3 linked regions of the Homo sapiens genome follow. Changing the gene in region 2 together with the main gene of any one other region gives a genetic interaction. Each region holds a gene or a part of one and is shown on either strand. Other genes may lie near its edges. The genes, in order: GHSR, AKT2 and PARP1.

Evidence for each region.
Region 1: changes in AKT2 (region 2) and GHSR together harm fitness less than expected from each alone (positive genetic interaction), as found in Homo sapiens cells (one large-scale study listed by BioGRID).
Region 3: changes in AKT2 (region 2) and PARP1 together harm fitness less than expected from each alone (positive genetic interaction), as found in Homo sapiens cells (one large-scale study listed by BioGRID).

The regions. Positions count from the first base shown.
Region 1 is NC_000003.12:172,445,609-172,449,682, reverse strand, and holds the start of GHSR (growth hormone secretagogue receptor type 1), read left to right. Parts: upstream 1-1,226; 5' UTR 1,227-1,269; coding exon 1,270-2,065; coding exon of another isoform or gene 2,066-2,139; exon of another isoform or gene 2,140-2,140; intron 2,141-4,074. UniProt on the Homo sapiens protein: Receptor for ghrelin, coupled to G-alpha-11 proteins. Stimulates growth hormone secretion. Also binds other growth hormone releasing peptides (GHRP) (e.g. Met-enkephalin and GHRP-6) as well as non-peptide, low molecular weight secretagogues (e.g.
Region 2 is NC_000019.10:40,236,778-40,240,423, reverse strand, and holds part of AKT2 (RAC-beta serine/threonine-protein kinase), read left to right. Parts: intron 1-313; coding exon 314-379; intron 380-1,450; coding exon 1,451-1,519; intron 1,520-2,332; coding exon 2,333-2,455; intron 2,456-3,646. UniProt on the Homo sapiens protein: Serine/threonine kinase closely related to AKT1 and AKT3. All 3 enzymes, AKT1, AKT2 and AKT3, are collectively known as AKT kinase.
Region 3 is NC_000001.11:226,366,455-226,370,100, reverse strand, and holds part of PARP1 (poly [ADP-ribose] polymerase 1), read left to right. Parts: intron 1-1,779; coding exon 1,780-1,902; intron 1,903-2,492; coding exon 2,493-2,621; intron 2,622-3,646. UniProt on the Homo sapiens protein: Poly-ADP-ribosyltransferase that mediates poly-ADP-ribosylation of proteins and plays a key role in DNA repair.

The sequences.
Region 1 (4,074 bases), on a different chromosome or scaffold from region 2:
ACAGCTTCTACTTCTCAACAGCAACGCGTCTTCTATTTATTGAGTGCCTCCGGTGGTCCCTGACACTTGATATCACCCCCAGTGGTCCGCACAAATCATTGCAATTCAAAGAAAAAGACGTAATGCTCAGGAGGTTGAAGACCTTGCCCAAGGGAATACGGCTACTAAATGGCTGATCTCTCTCAGTTATGCCTCAAAAAATGTTTCCTGCACACTCTCGACGCGCCAGCCTCACAGCCTCTTCTTCACTTGCCGCCTCCACACACCTCCAACCCTGCCTTTTTCCTTTCTCCTGTTCCCTCCCTGACCAACCTCGGCACCCCGCCACCAGGTTTGCATCAAGCAAAAGTAATATACCCTACAGCAGACTCTCTACCACTACCGAGTGATACAAAGGACTGGGATTCTGGACAGGGTTTACTCACATATCTTGCCCCTGTGCGCTCAGAAGTCCCAACCGGGTGGGAGATCCGACACTGGTCCCCGAGTCCCCAGCTCGCTGTGTGACCTTGGACAAGTAGTCACATCGCTGAACCTGGGTCCTATAACTGCGTGAGACTATTCTTTGGTGCTCACCGGTATGAATACAAACACAAGGTCCTTCTTTTCTCTCTCTATCCCCCTTCCCAAGTCGAGTTGGTCAAGCTCGCTTTTTCTTTCCACCAGGGCCATAGCCAGCTGCAGCCTTGTGGAGGAAGAAATCAGGTCCCAGCTGCTAAAGGTGTCCTCCCCACCGCCACCGTCGTCTTCACCCCCACCCCCGGGTGTGACCTGTCCTTCCGGGGCACACTAGTCCAGCGTCGCCCAGGGCTTCGGAGAGAGCGCCTCACGCTCCCGCTTCGCGGCGCCTGGTCCCTGCGGTCCCCACTCGCTGCGACGCTTTGGGAAGTGCGAGATGGAACTGGATCGAGAACGCAAATGCGAGGCAGGGCTGGTGACAGGTATGCGTGTGGGCGCCGGCCGGAGGATGTGTTGGGAGAAACTTTGGGGGAGTTGGTGGGGGAAAGGGGAGGTGTCAGAGAAAGCAGTGGGTCACTCTCTCACCCACTGACCACCAGTCTCTCTCCCTCTTCCTTGTCCCCATCTCACCTTCTTCCTCGGCTTCTGCCTCTCACCTCCCTCTCTTTCTTCTCCAAGCATCCTCCCTACGCGTCTGCACCCGCTCCTCCCTCGCACCCTCCCGCGCCTAAGCGGACCTCCTCGGGAGCCAGCTCGGTCCAGCCTCCCAGCGCAGTCACGTCCCAGAGCCTGTTCAGCTGAGCCGGCAGCATGTGGAACGCGACGCCCAGCGAAGAGCCGGGGTTCAACCTCACACTGGCCGACCTGGACTGGGATGCTTCCCCCGGCAACGACTCGCTGGGCGACGAGCTGCTGCAGCTCTTCCCCGCGCCGCTGCTGGCGGGCGTCACAGCCACCTGCGTGGCACTCTTCGTGGTGGGCATCGCTGGCAACCTGCTCACCATGCTGGTGGTGTCGCGCTTCCGCGAGCTGCGCACCACCACCAACCTCTACCTGTCCAGCATGGCCTTCTCCGATCTGCTCATCTTCCTCTGCATGCCCCTGGACCTCGTTCGCCTCTGGCAGTACCGGCCCTGGAACTTCGGCGACCTCCTCTGCAAACTCTTCCAATTCGTCAGTGAGAGCTGCACCTACGCCACGGTGCTCACCATCACAGCGCTGAGCGTCGAGCGCTACTTCGCCATCTGCTTCCCACTCCGGGCCAAGGTGGTGGTCACCAAGGGGCGGGTGAAGCTGGTCATCTTCGTCATCTGGGCCGTGGCCTTCTGCAGCGCCGGGCCCATCTTCGTGCTAGTCGGGGTGGAGCACGAGAACGGCACCGACCCTTGGGACACCAACGAGTGCCGCCCCACCGAGTTTGCGGTGCGCTCTGGACTGCTCACGGTCATGGTGTGGGTGTCCAGCATCTTCTTCTTCCTTCCTGTCTTCTGTCTCACGGTCCTCTACAGTCTCATCGGCAGGAAGCTGTGGCGGAGGAGGCGCGGCGATGCTGTCGTGGGTGCCTCGCTCAGGGACCAGAACCACAAGCAAACCGTGAAAATGCTGGGTGGGTCTCAGCGCGCGCTCAGGCTTTCTCTCGCGGGTCCTATCCTCTCCCTGTGCCTTCTCCCTTCTCTCTGAGTCTCCATCTCTATTTCCCCCTGAGTCGCTACCTCTTTCTTCAGTTTCTCTGGGCCTCTGTCTCTCTGCGTTTCTCTCAATTATTCTCTCCTCTTGCTTTCTTGAGTGATGTTTTTGATCTCTCAATCTTTCTCTCTGTCTCTGTCTCTCTCTCTCCTCCCCCTTTACTTTGTCAGTGTCTTTCTTACCGTCTCTATCTCTTTGTGTCTCTTTCTTCCTGTCTCTCCTTTCTCTCTTTCATGCAAAAATGTCCCATATTTGTATTTCCCTAAAATAAATTTTATATCAGCCCAGAAACTCCACTTTAAAAATCGAGATATCTTATAAAAGTCCATTGTGGTCTTTAAGCGTTAAAAGTGAGGACTGACTTCCTGCCTCAAGTAGGATTTGTGAATATCTAAGTTACATTAAGAAAAGCAGGGTTTGGATCTAGAAAGCGTTCAGCGGTAAATTCAACCAAAGACATGATCAATTTGGATAATCCTCTTAGAGATTATTCATTTTTCTTTCAATATTGTGATTTGTTTTCTGCCCTGCATTTTTTCAGATAATTGCATCAATTCTGTTTACCCTGCTGCTGTTCATACAGCTTTGTAAGGAAGTCAGTGACAAATCAGTGAAGTCTCATTTGTTTTTATGATTACCTGCCTCTTCAGGTAGGATAGACTAGGATAAGGTAAGGATAAACTAGATTAAACAAAGCTCCAACAGGAGGAAAGGAGACTTTGTGGAAACCAACAGAATTCACTACTTCCCCAAATGACCCTTCAGGAACATCTGGGCACAATGTCATAACTGGATTTGCTGAATGTTTATTGCACAAATTCAGCTTCTTTAAGTATATGTGTTTGGTACAAGTGAAGTAATAATAAATATGGTTACAGCCCAGCAAAATATTAACTCTACTTGCATTTTCAAAACCAAGGTCTGTATATTTTATTATTTAGATATTATAGTCAAGACTTCATACTTAATGGCATATTTTAAGGCTTCTTAGAAGCCATTCCAGGATGATTTCATATTTCCAATTTTACAGTTCCTGGATCCTCCATATTAAAGTGATAGAGTTTATTCAAGGAATGTCAAAGATTTTATTTTCTGGACCGGTGATTCTCGTGATATGACTCATAGGTTATAAACCTGCTAGTGTCCTCCAAGGGATCCTAAGCTCTCACCTACGAGAGTCACATTGTTACTGTGGCAGTTAAGTTGCTACTATACAACTTAGTTTTAAGGATAAGTTTAATAATTTCCTCCAATTTTATTTTCAAGCCATTAATTTCTTCATTGGTGTCTCAACACCAATGTTAACTTTCTTCTTCCTTGACAATTTGAAGGGGATCACTAAAGTGTTACAACGACTAAAAAATTATTTGTTATTATTTTTCCCTGATTTCTGAATTTAAAACAATCTAAACATTTAGACATCATTAAAAATTATCTTACATAGGCAAAATGAAGACTTGGATGGATGATAATTTATATGAGTTGGTTTAATAATAGCCTTACTTATGTCTATTGTAAGTGGCATAGAATCATTCATCTCAGTGATTCTTAATCCTAACTGTATATTCAATCCTCTGTGAAACTTAAAAAAAAAAAAGAGAAGATAAAACATATGTCCTGATCGCCCTCTTAGAGATTTAAATTGACTGAGTCTATACTACATCCAAGGAATCTGCATTGTTTTAAAAAGTGCCCCAGGAGACTCGGATACACAGCTATGGTTGAGTACAACCACTTTACCTCGTAAGTGTGTCTGTTGTGTCTAACACATAAAAACTGCTGGACTATTGTGAATAAATGGTCTAGTCAGTTGAGTCAATGTGTCAACTCAGTACAAAATCACTCAGATAGTTGTTAAATAGAAATGACTGGGGAGCTCAGTAAAAATTGTTGAACTGTTGGTCCAGACAGACTGAATCTTTGTTAAAA
Region 2 (3,646 bases):
ACCTCGGGGCTCTCGTGATGTCTGTTTGTCTCCCTTGCAGGGACGTCACAGGTGTCTTGTCCCTAGCAGCCTGGTCCTTACATTGTGACATTCCTGCTGACTTTTCACCTGTGGCTTTGAGAGCCACTGATGATCCTCGTCTGGGTCTGCTATTTGCTGAGGGTTTGCAGGCTTTCACTTTTCACTCCTGTGATTTTCTGCATTTATGGCTGGGAATGGAATTGCATTTCACAAGGCCTTGCTCCCCTTCGTCGGGGCGGAGTGGGCAGGTGTGGTGTTGCCCACCAGCCCCTCACCCGCAGTCTGTCTGCAGGATGAAGTCGCTCACACAGTCACCGAGAGCCGGGTCCTCCAGAACACCAGGCACCCGTTCCTCACTGTGAGTTGCCCTCCCCTTCCCAGACAGTGTGAGGCCAGCCTTTGGACAGAGCTCAGAGAGAGAGCCCTAATCTTCTGGTACAAAGCACAGTCTTGGGGTAGGCCAGGCGGGCAGGGCAAGGTGTTGCTGCGCCCTGCCAAGTCATCCGAACCAAGACATGTGGTGGGGGTGAGCAGGCTCGGGGAGTGGGAGGGTGACAGCTTCTTCATAGATGGTGGCTTCATGTAAGCATTTGAACTAACTGAAGATATCACATTATTTGCTGGCTGCTGTCTCTATGAGTTAGGAGCACTTAGCCCAGCTGGTTGAAGTGGAAACATTATTTTTTTTGTTTTTGTTTTCAGATATGCTCATAGAAGCAGATGTGTTAGCATTGTGTTGTCTGTCAGCCTGGACTGAGTAGATGCCTGTTTGGGCTGCAGTCTCCATCAAGGCCAGTGGCCACCAGTTAAATGGACTAGATTGAGGATGGCTTATGTATCATTTCTTTATCTCAGTTGCTGTCCAGGTATCCTATTAAGCCACAGTACTTTTTCAAATAAAATCTTATGAGGTACCTCAGTGCAGAAAACAGAATAGTTGAGTTGTCATGAGCTGAAGGACCCCCTGGTGGGAGTCTCTGAGGAACTCTCTGTAGATCTCCTTAGTGCAGTGGAGAACTACTGTTTGTTGACTGACAGCCTGTCCATCCTGTCATTGAAGTTGGCTCCCAAGCCTTTGCCACTCCCAGCCACAGCAGACATCACTTGTGTGTGTAAGTTGAACACATTTTACTGTAAAAACAAGAGCCATGGTTGCTCAGAACAGCTCTAGTTCTCCCTTGGCTGTGCCTGATGGAGGCAGAGGACAAGATGGTTCAGCATGTAACCCTTTCCTACCGCAGAGCCATGCCTTCACTTAATGCCCCAAAAGGTGCAGCCGGTATGTGAACCCCATATGGCTGACTCCTGGGGGCCCCAGCCAGGGCAGGGTGTGTGTGTGCAGAATAAGCAGGGCCAGGGCCCTGCCCTGGCATGGCTCAGCAGAGCCCTCCTCCCTCCCACCTCCCACCCTGCTGCCTTCATCCCCCAGGCGCTGAAGTATGCCTTCCAGACCCACGACCGCCTGTGCTTTGTGATGGAGTATGCCAACGGGGGTGAGGTGAGCCGCGGCTGCCTTGACTTTGCCCTCTGGGGCCTCCTTCTTTAGGGTGGGGCGGGATGGAGAGGAGCTGTGGGTGAGATGGAAGGGTGGAGGGAAATTTCAGTGTCATCTAGTGCCCCTCTCCCTTGAGGCAGGCGGCTTCGTCTCCATTTTGGGGGGGCAGTCACTGAGGCTCAGAGAGGTTAAGTGGCTTGCCCAAGTTTACACAGCTAGTGAGTGGGTGGGTCAGGTCCAAACCAGTCCAGAGAGGTGTGGAGAGGGCTGTGGGGCGATAGCACTGGGAAGGATGGTCTTAAAGGCCCCAGAGAAAGCCCCCAAGGGTTAAAACCTAGCAGCCCTCCGTTCCCGTGTCCTCTCGAAGTGAATTCCCGCAGCCGCTCAGCTTCCCCTTACAGAGTCGCCTCACTTTTGTCACCCACTCCTTGCCTCGCGCCTTCTCTGTGCAGTGGTTGGCACACCTGCTTTGGGATGCGTGGTTTGCTCATCTGTCTGATCTGGGCTTGCCCATGGCCTATTGTTACTTGGTCATGACGTGTGCTTCTTTTTGCCTCCATGCCATCCTCCCTCCTGTCTCGGATGTCTCTCCCATACCCTCTCATGGGTGCCTCCTGGCAGACCCTCGCCCTTCCCCCCAGCTCTGTGTCACTTATGAGCTTCTGCGCTCTGCCTTGATTGGTCCCTCTAGCTGTCACTTGCTGGTTCATGATACAGGTGTCACCACATCACTGCGCTGGGGCAGGGGGCTGGGAAGGTGAGGGCAGGTGGGTGGGCTGGGGCCTGACCTCCTCTCCCCACCCCTTCCTCCTGCAGCTGTTCTTCCACCTGTCCCGGGAGCGTGTCTTCACAGAGGAGCGGGCCCGGTTTTATGGTGCAGAGATTGTCTCGGCTCTTGAGTACTTGCACTCGCGGGACGTGGTATACCGCGACATCAAGGTTAGTGGCAGGGTGTGCGCCAGGCTGACCTGTGGCATGCACACCACATGGGACTCACACTGGGGAAGTTGGGCTGAGCTTCTGCCCTCATTCGCCAGGCTCCCCACCAAGGTCCAGGGTGGTGGCTGCCCTCATTCGCCAGGCTCCCCACCAAGGTCCAGGGTGGTGGCTGCCCTCATTCACCAGGCTCCCCACCAAGGTCCAGGGTGGTGGCTCTGTGGCAAGTTGCCCCAAGTAGGGACCTTCCCAAGCCTCCCATGAGCGCTCCTAGGCCACTAGCGGAGTGTCAACTGCCACAATACCTACTTTATTTGTATTTATTTATTTATTTATTTTTGAGGAGTCTTACTCTGTTGAGTGCAGTGGTGTGATCTCGGCTCGCTGCAACCTCTGCCTCCCGGGTTCAAGCGATTGTCCTGCCTCAGCCTCCCGAATAGGTGGGATTACAGGTGCCCGCCACCATGCCCAGCTAATTTTTGTATTTTTAGTAGAGACGGGGTTTCATCATATTGGCCAGGCTGGTCTCAAACTCCTGACCTTGTGATCCACCCACCTCAGCCTCCCAAAGTGCTTGGATTACAGGCATGAGCCCCCGCGCCCGGCCAATTTTAGAAGATAGTTTGGCAGTGTCCACCAAAGCTGAGCACCAGTCATCTGCCCTAGCTGTGTGCACAGGAGAAGTGGGGACACACACTCACCTTAGAAAGTGTCCCCCTCACTCAGCAGCAGGACTTACTCTAGCCCCAACTGGAACAACCCAAGTATCCACTGTGAGAGGAACAGTCAGATCCACTGTGGAGTGTTCTCACAGTGGGACGCCACACAGCAGTTAGGAATGAGCTACAGCTACACACGACAGTGTGGACGCGTCTCATAGGCTAATGTCGAGGGAAAGCCGCACAGAGGAGGTGAGTCCACAGTTCACAGGTGTGTCTGTGTGCAGTGGTACAGATGGGAAGTAGAGGTTAATTCTTGTGGGGGATGGTCAGTAACCGGGAGGGGCACACAGGGCCTTCCAGGGGGAGATGCCACCTCAGCCTCGCAAGTAGCTGGGACTATAGGTGTGTGCCACCATGCCTGGCTAATTTTTTTTTTCATATTAAGAAATATGGAGATGGGGTCTCGCTGTGTTGCCCAGGCTGGTCTCAAACTCATGGGTTCAAGCAATCCTGCCACCTAAGTCCCCCAAAT
Region 3 (3,646 bases), on a different chromosome or scaffold from region 2:
TTACTAAAATTCACTCATGCTCAAGTCCTAGAGTGCCCTGCAGAACCCATGGAGGAGAAAAGTTGGCCCTGCACATCTGTGGGTCTCGCATCCTGAGATTTTTTTTTTTTTTTTTTGGTGGGATTTTTCTTTCTTTTTCTTTTTTGAGACAGAGTCTTGCTCTGTCCCCCAGGCTGGAGTGCAGTGTCACAATCTCAGCTCACTGCAACCTCCATCCCCAGGTTCAAGCGGTTCTCGTGCCTCAGACTCCCAAGTAGCTGGGGTTGCAAGCATGGGCCACCACACCCGGCTAATTTTTTTGTATTTTTAGTAGAGGTGGGGTTTCACTATGTTGGCCAGACTGGTCTCAAACTCCTGGGTTCAAGTGATCCGCCTGCCTCAGCCTCCCAAAGTGCTGGGATTACAGGCATGAGCCACCACACCTGGCCTGAGAATACTATATTTTTTATCTGAGTTTGGTTGAATTCTCAACTGCAGAGCCCACAGGTGTAGAGAGCTAACTGTATTTATTGAAAACATCTGTGTATAAGTGGACCCGCATACTTCAAATCGATTGTTCAAGGGTCACCTGTGTTGTGGTTTTTATTTTATGTGTCCTTAAGAGTTAGGCAGAGTTTATTTTGCAGTTACTAGGAAGTCATCAAATGGAAGCCTCTTTCATTCATGTTATTTCAACATTCTTTGAGCATCTTTCAAGGTCTACCAGTCCCGGAGCCTTCCAGCTACATCCTGGAGGGGCTGGAGGGTTCCGCTTATATTTGTGGGTGGGTGCAGGCCTGGCCTGTAGAAAGAAGGAAAGCACACAGGAAGCAGAAGTGGGCCCAGGCAGCGGGCTTTCTGGCTGGTGCTGGAGAAAAGGCGCTGAACCGGATCTGTCAACTTCAGTTACAGCTGGCTCTGAGCAGTGAACCTCTCTCCTTGTTCCTTACTGACTGAGAACTTACAAGGCTTTCCTCGGCCCCAGCTTCTTCCCATGCAATAGTCTTCAGGAAGAAGAGCTGGAATAGCATCCTTACCCATTGCCAGAGCCACCTGGGCAGCACAGATGGAAGTTGTACAACTTGGTGAAGTCCATGTCACAGCGAGAAGCAGGCGTGGGGCTTCGGACCTGCTGGGTGCCACTTCATATTCCCTTGACCTTCCTGTGGTCACCTAGGCTGTCTGCGAAATTCCTGGAATCCCAGTGGCCCCGCTCTTCCATCTCTGTGCATTTTTTGTGCACCCTTTGCATATAGAGCACCAAGTGACACTGGCAGTGAGTGTAAGGATTGCTTAGCCTTTCTGTGCCTGGCCACCTCAACCTCCAGGTACAGTAAAAACTAATTCCAATGAAGGTCAGTGGAGGCAGGGAGCCTGACTGAATTTTATAGCGATGGGCAACCTCCTCCCAACATTTTATTATGAAAATGTTTCAAACATACAAAAAGTTGAAGGAATTTTACAGCAATAGTCATTAGCCCACCACCTAGATTTTACAGTTAACATTTTGCATAGTTGTGGCGGGGTTTCAAATGTCTGTAACTGCACAGTTCTTTGTACAAATGAAACTTCATGGGAGAAGCCCATCACGTGTTGAGCAGTGCTTTTAGAGGATGGGGGTCCTGCCCTGCTCTTTAACAGGAAGATGGTCTTCTGGTCGTTTCCCATGTGTCCTGGCATGTGCACATACCACGCTACTTCTGGACCTGCTGCAGCACCCACCTGCTAAAAGAGAAAGCCTGGCCGGGGGCTTGGAGCTGCTCCCTCAGTCTTGCATTCCTTCTGTCCCCTCCTCTCCAGGCGGTGTCTCAGGGCAGCAGCGACTCTCAGATCCTGGATCTCTCAAATCGCTTTTACACCCTGATCCCCCACGACTTTGGGATGAAGAAGCCTCCGCTCCTGAACAATGCAGACAGTGTGCAGGTAGCGCAAGGGTTCAGAAGGGACTGCAGGTCTGCTGGGCTGGGGTGTGACTACCTTGCAGCCGTCCCTCCCCATCATGATCCCTGAGGGCAGCACCAATGCTGGGAGGGCCACCCTCTTGCCCTTGTTTTGAAGTTGGGTTTCTACCCACATTGATGGAGGCAGAGCTGTTTTTCCTGCCCCTGTTCTACCAAATCCACTGGGGAAAGAGCTGTTGGAGAGGGACAGCCTCTCCCTCATAACAGCATCTTCCTCCCCATTTTCCCTCCCTGCCTTTTAAGACAGCTCCTGGCTCAGGACCCATTTGTCTAAAGTACCTTCACTGTAGGTCCCAAATGTCAGCATGTACGAGAGGAAAGACAGTTCTTCCACCTCTCAACTCCCCCAGGCCACAAGGCCTTGTTAACATTCCAGAAAGTCCTTATGAGCTCTCAATATGTGCAGCAGGTAACAGGCTGGCCCTGACCAGCAGGAGGGTTTGCCATTCACTGTGTTGGACCTTCTCTGCATGTAGGTTTTCTCTGCCACCTGGGTGAGTCTGTCTCATTCACCATGATACCTAAGTCGGGGGCTTTCTTTTGCTCCTCCAGGCCAAGGTGGAAATGCTTGACAACCTGCTGGACATCGAGGTGGCCTACAGTCTGCTCAGGGGAGGGTCTGATGATAGCAGCAAGGATCCCATCGATGTCAACTATGAGAAGCTCAAAACTGACATTAAGGTAACAGGGTCAGGCCTTCCTCAAGCATCTTAACCTCTCATCCTGAGAGCAGCGGTCCCAAACTTCCATGTGTGTTAGGATCTCCTGGAAAGCTTGTTAAAACACAGGTGGCTGGCGCCCAATAATTCACTTTTCTAACAAGTTCCCGGACATTGCTGCTGGTGGTCCTTTGAGAACCTTTGGGCGTTTCACGTGTAGATAATGCACCTTGTTTGCAAGGCAGCCTTCCAAGCCAGCACCTCAGCTTGGCGTACAAATTTATTTTTGAGGGTCTTACCAAAAGTTCTTTTTTGTTTGTTTGTTTGTTTGTTTCCTCTCCTTAATCTAGAGAGGAGCTCTGTTTTTCTAAACCCTTGTAGCGTGAACTTTTAGAAGACTTATTACCGGTGTCCATTTCAGAAGTGGAAATGCTTGATGGCACCTGTAATAAAAACACAATGCTTGCGTTCATTTTTCTCTGGTGCTGAAGTGGACTGTGTTGGCACACACAGTCTCTGAACACCCCGCTTAGACCAACTAGAGGAGGGATTTTTGCCTCAGCTTCTAGATGGCCCGGTCCTTGAGCCTATCTCCACACTCATGTGCCCCATTGTCCTCAGCCCATTCCCTGCAGTGTTGCAGGGGTTTGGGTGGGCGAGAGTATGTTGAGTCTGGTACCAGGTGTTTACATCGCTAAAGAAAGAGCCTTGGCTTCTTTCCTAGGACAAAGTATAGACCTATGGGTCCAAGCAGGGTAAGACACCACATGTCATTTGTTTTGCCCCTAGAGCACCTTCCTGATGGGAAAACTGTAGGTGTGGTTCTTCGTGAAGGGATTCTTATTCTCTTTTTACAATTCTGAAGCCTTTTAATTAAAAGACAGGGAGGTAGACCAGCATTCTAGGTTTTCTGAAGTTTGAATATAAATATGAAAATAAAACATAACTAGTCTCCTCCGTAATACTCAGGCTTACTGAGCATAGATTACATCAGCTATTTGACAGATGCTTGTTAGGCCTGTGCTCTGAGCCAGGGATAATTTTCAT